2 linked regions of the Homo sapiens genome follow. Changing the gene in region 1 together with any one later gene gives a genetic interaction. Each region holds a gene or a part of one and is shown in the gene's direction. Other genes may lie near its edges.

Region 1 (3,500 bases):
ATTTGAAACTTCAATACTTTCCTGTCATCTGAAGACTATAGTTATTTTTTTGTGAGCATGTGCTAATATGAGGAACTGCACCTTGCCTGTTTTTTTTCTTTTATTTGAGACAGAGTCTCGCTGTGTTGCCAGGCTGGAGTGCAGTGGTGTGATCTTGGCTCACTGCAACTTCCACCTCCTGGGTTCAAGTGATTCTCCTGCTTCAGCCTCCAGAGTAGCTGGGACTACAGGCACGTGCCACCATGCCCAGCTAATTTTTATATTTTTAGTAGAGACAGGGTTTCACCATGTCGGCCAGGATGGTCTTGATCTCTTGACCTCGTAATCGCCTGCCTCGGCCTCCCAAAGTGCTGGGATTACAGGTGTGAGCCACCGCGCCTGGTGCCTTGTCTGTTTTTATAGTACAATCTAAATAGGTGGTATTATTATAATAACATACAGATTTAAAGTATGTTTTTCATTTATTTGAGAATGGGGAGGAAGAAGGGAAGTATGGGCAAGACATTATACAGTTAATCATGTTAATACTAGTAGTAAATATGTTACCATTGAAAAAGAAGAGGTAATTTCCACAGGTTTAAGACTGAGATTCTCTAGCTTGGAATGTAAAACTCTTCACAATTTGGCTCTAGTTTAGTTTTTTGTTTTTTTGTTATTGTTGTTTGTTTGTTTTTAATAGAGACAGGATCTCACTATATTGCTCAGTCTGGTCTCGAATTCTTGGGCTCAAGGGATCTACCCACCTTGATCTCCCAAAGCTCTGGGATTAAGGCGTGAGCCACCATGCCTGGCCTCCTAGTTTAGTTTTCGAACTTTATAATATTACTCTTTTCTATAAATCCCTTCTTCTAGCTCAACTAATCTGTCATTGTCCTTTGAATTCTCTTGTTTTTCCTAGTTTTTTGGCTCACCATTTTCTACCAACCAGCAACAACTTATGCCTACTTCTACTTCTCAGTCCTCCATGTCCTTTAAGACTGTTTTGAGTAGTGTAGATGAGAGATAATGAAAGCCTGGAATATCAATGAAAGTGGAGAACCAGGATGAAGAGTAGAGATGTTAAAAGTGTAGAATCTTAGAGATTGGTAATTGGATTGTGTAGAAGGAGGCTGAACGATAGAGAGGAAGGTGTCTAGGATGACTTCCGTTTTTCTATCTTGGGGCTTTTTGGGTAGATGATGGCGAAAATTATTGAAATGGGAGACAGAGGTAAAATATGTTGCCCAGATCACTCTGCTAATAAGAAGTGGAGCCAGAACTTGAGCCCAGGTGGTCTGGCTCGGAGTCTATGTGAATAATCACTATACTGTATCGCCTTAAAAAAAAAATGACAGATGTATTCCTTGCTCTCAAGAATTCTACACTTTAATTGGGGGATTAAATTCACATAAACAGTTAAATAACAGTCACTGTGATAACTAATAAATTAATAACTCATGCAGTGCCCTTATGGAAGCTATTATTATATAGAAAAGGAGATTAATAATAATAATAATTGCATTTAAGTTCTTACTATGTGCCAGACACTCTTCTAAGTGCTTAAGTGCATTATCTTATTTCAAATAATATTTACACATTATTTGAAACTTCAGTATGTTTCTATGATTTATGGTGATGGGTTGTGATATCTCCATTTTTTAGATGAGAACGCTAAGTACAGATTATTTGCCCTAAGTCACACACCGATGCTGTTTCAGACAAAGTAGGCATTCAATAAATGTTTGATACATAGTTTAAAATCTTTGAAGAAAGTTTAAAAGAAAGAACTATCAAAATCAGTGAGTTACACATAGTCAAAAAAATATATGGCATTGAATCCAGCCATGTTCCGTTAAGGGGGATTTGCATGTAATGCCAGAGAGGATTTTGAGCATGCTAAAATGGATAAACAGCCTTTGGAATGTCCTTTTTAACTGTTTCCACACTAGGAACAGTAGTAACTATGTTCAGCTGCTATTTAAGGCCCCAAACAATTCTTTGCATTGTAGTTTGTGGCCTGGTCAGCATTTACCAAGTCACCATGAGAGTTTTTTGTTCTTTCACTTGAACATATTGTCATAGAAATTTAGTTGTTTCCCCTCATTCTGTGTTGAACCCAAACATGCCTAGAATATTTAGAGTATCCCTGATTTAGCTGCTGGGTAATTTGAGGATAGTTGGGTACTCTGGGATGAAAAGGCTTGATACAATATGGGAAAAAAAGGAAGCAGCAGTGGCTTGGTAGGACTCAAGCCACATTTGGCCTTGCCTTGGTATTCTTCCATCTCCTTTGTGTGATGCGGTCGTCTCAGCAAGGAGACAGTGGTAATTACACAATTGGTAGTACAGATTTGGATTATTTTTCTTAATTAGTTTAAGAAATATTACAAAGCCCTCTGTACATGTTATCTGCTAGGGCTTTAAATCTGTAACTGTAGCTAGAAATAGGATTCTTTCTTATAAGTTGCCTAATTCATTATATTTACACCTCTTCTGTTCTTTAAAATAGTCCCAAAGTTCCCTGAACAGTGTTTAATTTTGGGGAGGGATCTTTTAATCATAATTTTAAACTCAGAGGATGTAGAACATGGCTTCCTATAATACTCTTCTCAAAGTATTGGTTTAAGTCAGTGGTTCTCAGTCTGTATATTGTGGACCCTGGGATGTGGGTGATGGGGGTAGTAGCTTTATGGCATTTTGCAAAGCATCTGCAAATCCATACTTGAAGCAAGCATTTTCTGTAGACCAAATAATTTATTTCATATATCTTTGTACAGCTCTTCAAATTTTTATAGCTATACTTCTGACTAATAAACTCCAAGTTCATTTTAAATCTTCACTAAATTCTTAGCAGCCTTTTTCCATCATGTATTTTCTCAGTACACAGAAGCTGAAAGGACAACCTTGATGGTTTTGGGTGACCAGGATATTATTTTATATTAAAAGAGAGCCCTTATATTCAGGAGCCTTTGGGGAGAGACTATGGGTTTTCTAGGTGTAGAATTATATCATCTGTGTGAGAGATGGTTTGACTTCCTCTCTTCATATTTGGATGCCTTTTATTTCTTTCTTTTGCCTGATTGCTCTGGCTATGACTTGAGCACTTGGGAATTCTTGTTTTTTGGTTTTTTTTTTCACATTATGATAAATATATATTTTCATAGTGCCAGATTTACTGTAATTTCTTATTGTTATTAAAACCTAACACTTGGTCATATGCTATTTACTTTATGTGTTTCTAATTTTTATTTGCGTATTTGGCCTAAGCATGTTTATATCTGCTTCTGAGTAATTTCTGCATTTTATATGTTTTTACTTCATAAAAGATGGAGGCCACCTCAAAACAAATTAGGCATCAAAGGAACATACCTCAAAATAATAAGAACCATCTATAGCAAGTCCACAGCCAACATTGTAATGAGTGGGCAAGAGCTGGAAGTACATTCCCTTTGAGAACCAGAACAAGACAAGGATGTCCCTCTCACCACTCATATTCAACATAGTGCTGGAAGTTGTAGCCA
Region 2 (3,500 bases), on another chromosome or scaffold:
CAGGTCCAAGGGGGCTCTGGGCTGGGATTACAAAGTATGTGTGTGCAGACGGGTGGGTTGCTGCTCTCAGGGAATGGGGTTGGCTAGGGTAGCTTTTTTGGGGAGTCAACTTTATTGAAGTAAATATACGGTTGACCCTTGAACAACACAGGGGTTGAGGGCATCAACCTCCTCCCTGCAGTCAAAAAATCATATATTAACTTTTGACTCCTCAAAAACTTAACTACTAATAGCCTATTGTTGTCAGAAAGCCTTGTAGATAAAGTTGATTGACACTCATTTTGTTTGTTATATATATTATATACTGTATTCTTACAATAAAGTAAGCTAGTGAAAATAAAATAAGAAAATCATATGGCCGGGTGCAGTGGCTCACACCTGTAATCTCAGCACATTGGGAGGCTGGGGCAGGCGGATCACTTGAGGCCAGGAGTTCAAGACCAGCATGGCCAATATGGTGAAACCCTGTATCTACTAAAAATACAAAAATTGGTCTGCTGTGTTGGCGCACGCCTATGATCCCAGCTACTCAGGTGGTCAAGGCATGAGAATCACTTGAACCTGGGAGGCGGAGGTAGTTGCAGTAAGCCGTGAGTCACCCCACCACTGCGTTCCAGCCTGGGCGACAGAGTCTTGCTGTCTCAAAAAAAAAAAGAAAGAAAATCATAAGGAAGAGGAAATATATCTACTATTCTTTAAGTCGAAGGGGATCATTATGAAGGTCTTCATCCTTCACATTGAGTAGGCTGAGGAGGAAGAGGAAGAGTTGGTCTTGCCGTCACAGAGGTGGCAGAGGTGGAGGCGGAGGAGGTGGAAAGGAAGGCAGAAAAGGCAGGCACACTCAGTGTAACTTACTGAAAAACATCCAGCCACGTGTGGTGGCGCATGCCTGTGGTAATCGCTACTTAGGAGGCTGAGGCAGGAGGATTGGCTGAACCCAGGGGTTTGAGGCTGCTGTGAGCTATGATCACGTCACTGCACTCCTGCCTGGGCAACAGAGTGAGACCCTTTCTCAAAAAAAAAAAAAAAAGAAAAGAAAAAGAAAAAATCCATGTGTAACTGGACCTGCGCAGTTCAGACCCGAGTTGTTCAAGTGTGCACTATACACCAAAAAGTGTGCCGATCGCAATGGTACAGCTCAGTGAATTGTCACAGAGTGGACCCACTTCATGATTGGGCTCAGACAGTCTGAAAACCAACCCCAGAGGTCCCCTTGCATTCCTTCCAGTCTCCCTGTCCCAAGAGCAGCTATCCTGACAGCATGGATTAGTTTGGCCAGATTTTGAACTTTATTCAAATGGAATTACATAATATGTACTTTCCTGTGTCTGGCTTCTTGGTTAACATTTTATTTATTTATTTATTTATTCATTCATTTAGAGGCAGGGTCTCACTCTGTCGCCCAGGCTGGAGTGCAGTGGTGTGACCTTGGCTCACTGTAGCCTTGACCTCCCCAGGCTCAAGCGATCCTCCCACCTCAGCCTCCTGAGTAGCTGGGAGTACAAGCACGCAGTACCACCCCCGGCTAATTTTTGTATCTTTAGTAGAGACCGGGTTTCGCCATGTTGCCGAGACTGGTCTTGAACTCCTCCTGGGTTTAAGCCATCTGTCTGCCTCAGCTTCCCAAAGTGCTGAGATTACAGGTGTGAGCCACTGTGCCTAGCCATCATTATGTTTTGAAATTTATCGGGATTGGCCAGGCACGGTGACTGGCACCTGTAATCCCAGCATTTTGGGAGGCCGAGGTGGGTGGATCACCTGAGGTCAGGAGTTCGAGACCAGCCTGGCCAACATGGTGAAACCCCATCTCTACTGAAAATACAAAAATTAGCTGGTTGTGGTGGTGCATGCCTGTAATCCCAGCTACTCAGGAGGTGGAGGTTGCAATGAGCCGAGATTGTGCTACTGCACTCCAGCCTGGGTGACAGAGCCAGACTCCATCTCAAAAAAAGAAAAGAAAAGAAATTCATCAGTGTTATTTAATGGTTGGAGTTTGTGTTGGAGTTTATTTAATGGTTGGTGTTTACTGCTGTACGTAGTCCCTTTTGTGAATATGCCACTGTTTATCCATTTTCCTCTGGATCGGCATCTGGGCAGCTCCCAGTTTGAGGTTTATTACAAAGCATGCCACTTGTAGCCCTCCTGTGCCTGTCTAGGCAGACACATGTCCTGTGTCCTCTCGGTGTGTACCTAGAAGTGGGGTTGGTATATGTTTAGAGATGCTACCTGGGCGGGATTTTGCAGGTGAAGGACCCAAGGACCCACAGAGCATAAGGGACTTTCTCAGATCACATAGCCCCTTCTCAGAGCTGCTCCGGGGCCCCTTTCCCCACAGAACAGTAGCTGGAACCAGGCCTGGGGCTGACGGTCAGGTGTCCATTGTCCCACTAGCCCCCTTTGCTCCTTTCTATCAGTCCTGGAAGGCCCCCTGTGGCCTTAGGGTTGGTGGCTCCCTCTGCCCCTGGGGGTCCTCAGCCCTCATGCTCCTCTACCCAGTACCGTCAGCCTGCCAGGACTGGAGAGAATGGCCCATGTGTCAAATCCCAGCGCAGGACACTCTTGGCACCTGTTCATGCCCAGTGAGGAGCCAGATCTCAGCAGTTGGGGGGCATTTCTTCACACCCCTCCTCAGTCTTCATGCTCTTCCCCACAGCTCTAATGGTACCAAGTGACAGGTTGGCTTTACTGTGACTCGGGGACGCCAGAGCTCCTGAGAAGATGTCAGCAATACAGGTACCACAGGGGTGAGGGTCTGGGACATGCAAGCATTCCCACCAGCCCCAGCGGGGTGCTTAGCAGAGGAGAGAGGATGCAGCTTAGATCAACCCACTCCCCTTTTTCCCAGCACTCAGTCAGGTACAGGCCTGGGGAAGTGGGGGAGTCTCAACAGGAAGGGACCCAGGGCTCGTTCTCCGGGCAGAGCACCTCACCCAGGCTCACAGAGGCCAGCTCAGAGGCTGTGACCACGAGGGTGCGCCAGCAGGTGGCTGGAGGGGGCCCAGGCTGCACCCGCCCACGTGTCACCTGCCTTGCAGGCCGCCTGGCCATCCGGTACAGAATGTATTGCCAAGTACAACTTCCACGGCACTGCCGAGCAGGACCTGCCCTTCTGCAAAGGAGACGTGCTCACCATTGTGGCCGTCACCAAGGTAATCAGGTGACGCCCACCCCACCATCCCACTGCTGGGCCTTCCCTCTGCAGGGGGAGGTGGGCCTGAGAGCATGTCTGGGCTGCCCTCTCCCCAGGACCCCAACTGGTACAAAGCCAAAAACAAGGTGGGCCGTGAGGGCATCATCCCAGCCAACTACGTCCAGAAGCGGGAGGGCGTGAAGGCGGGTACCAAACTCAGCCTCATGCCGTGAGTACCACGAGGAGGGGTTGGGGAGGGAAGGGGCCTTGGTCCTCCTGAAGGAGCATCAGGAGCAAGCAGGGAGGCCAGAGTGAGGGGCTTGGGTGTTGGGGAGGGCCTCAGGAGGAGGTGCAGGGTGCGGGTGCGGGA

What was found.
Region 2: changes in ATF6 (region 1) and CSK are lethal when combined (synthetic lethality), as found in Homo sapiens cells (one large-scale study listed by BioGRID).

Annotation. Positions count from the first base shown.
Region 1 is NC_000001.11:161,793,820-161,797,319, forward strand, and holds part of ATF6 (cyclic AMP-dependent transcription factor ATF-6 alpha), read left to right. Parts: intron 1-3,500.
Region 2 is NC_000015.10:74,795,580-74,799,079, forward strand, and holds part of CSK (tyrosine-protein kinase CSK), read left to right. Parts: intron 1-2,632; exon of another isoform or gene 2,633-2,653; 5' UTR 2,654-2,718; coding exon 2,719-2,733; intron 2,734-3,035; coding exon 3,036-3,149; intron 3,150-3,246; coding exon 3,247-3,359; intron 3,360-3,500. UniProt on the Homo sapiens protein: Non-receptor tyrosine-protein kinase that plays an important role in the regulation of cell growth, differentiation, migration and immune response.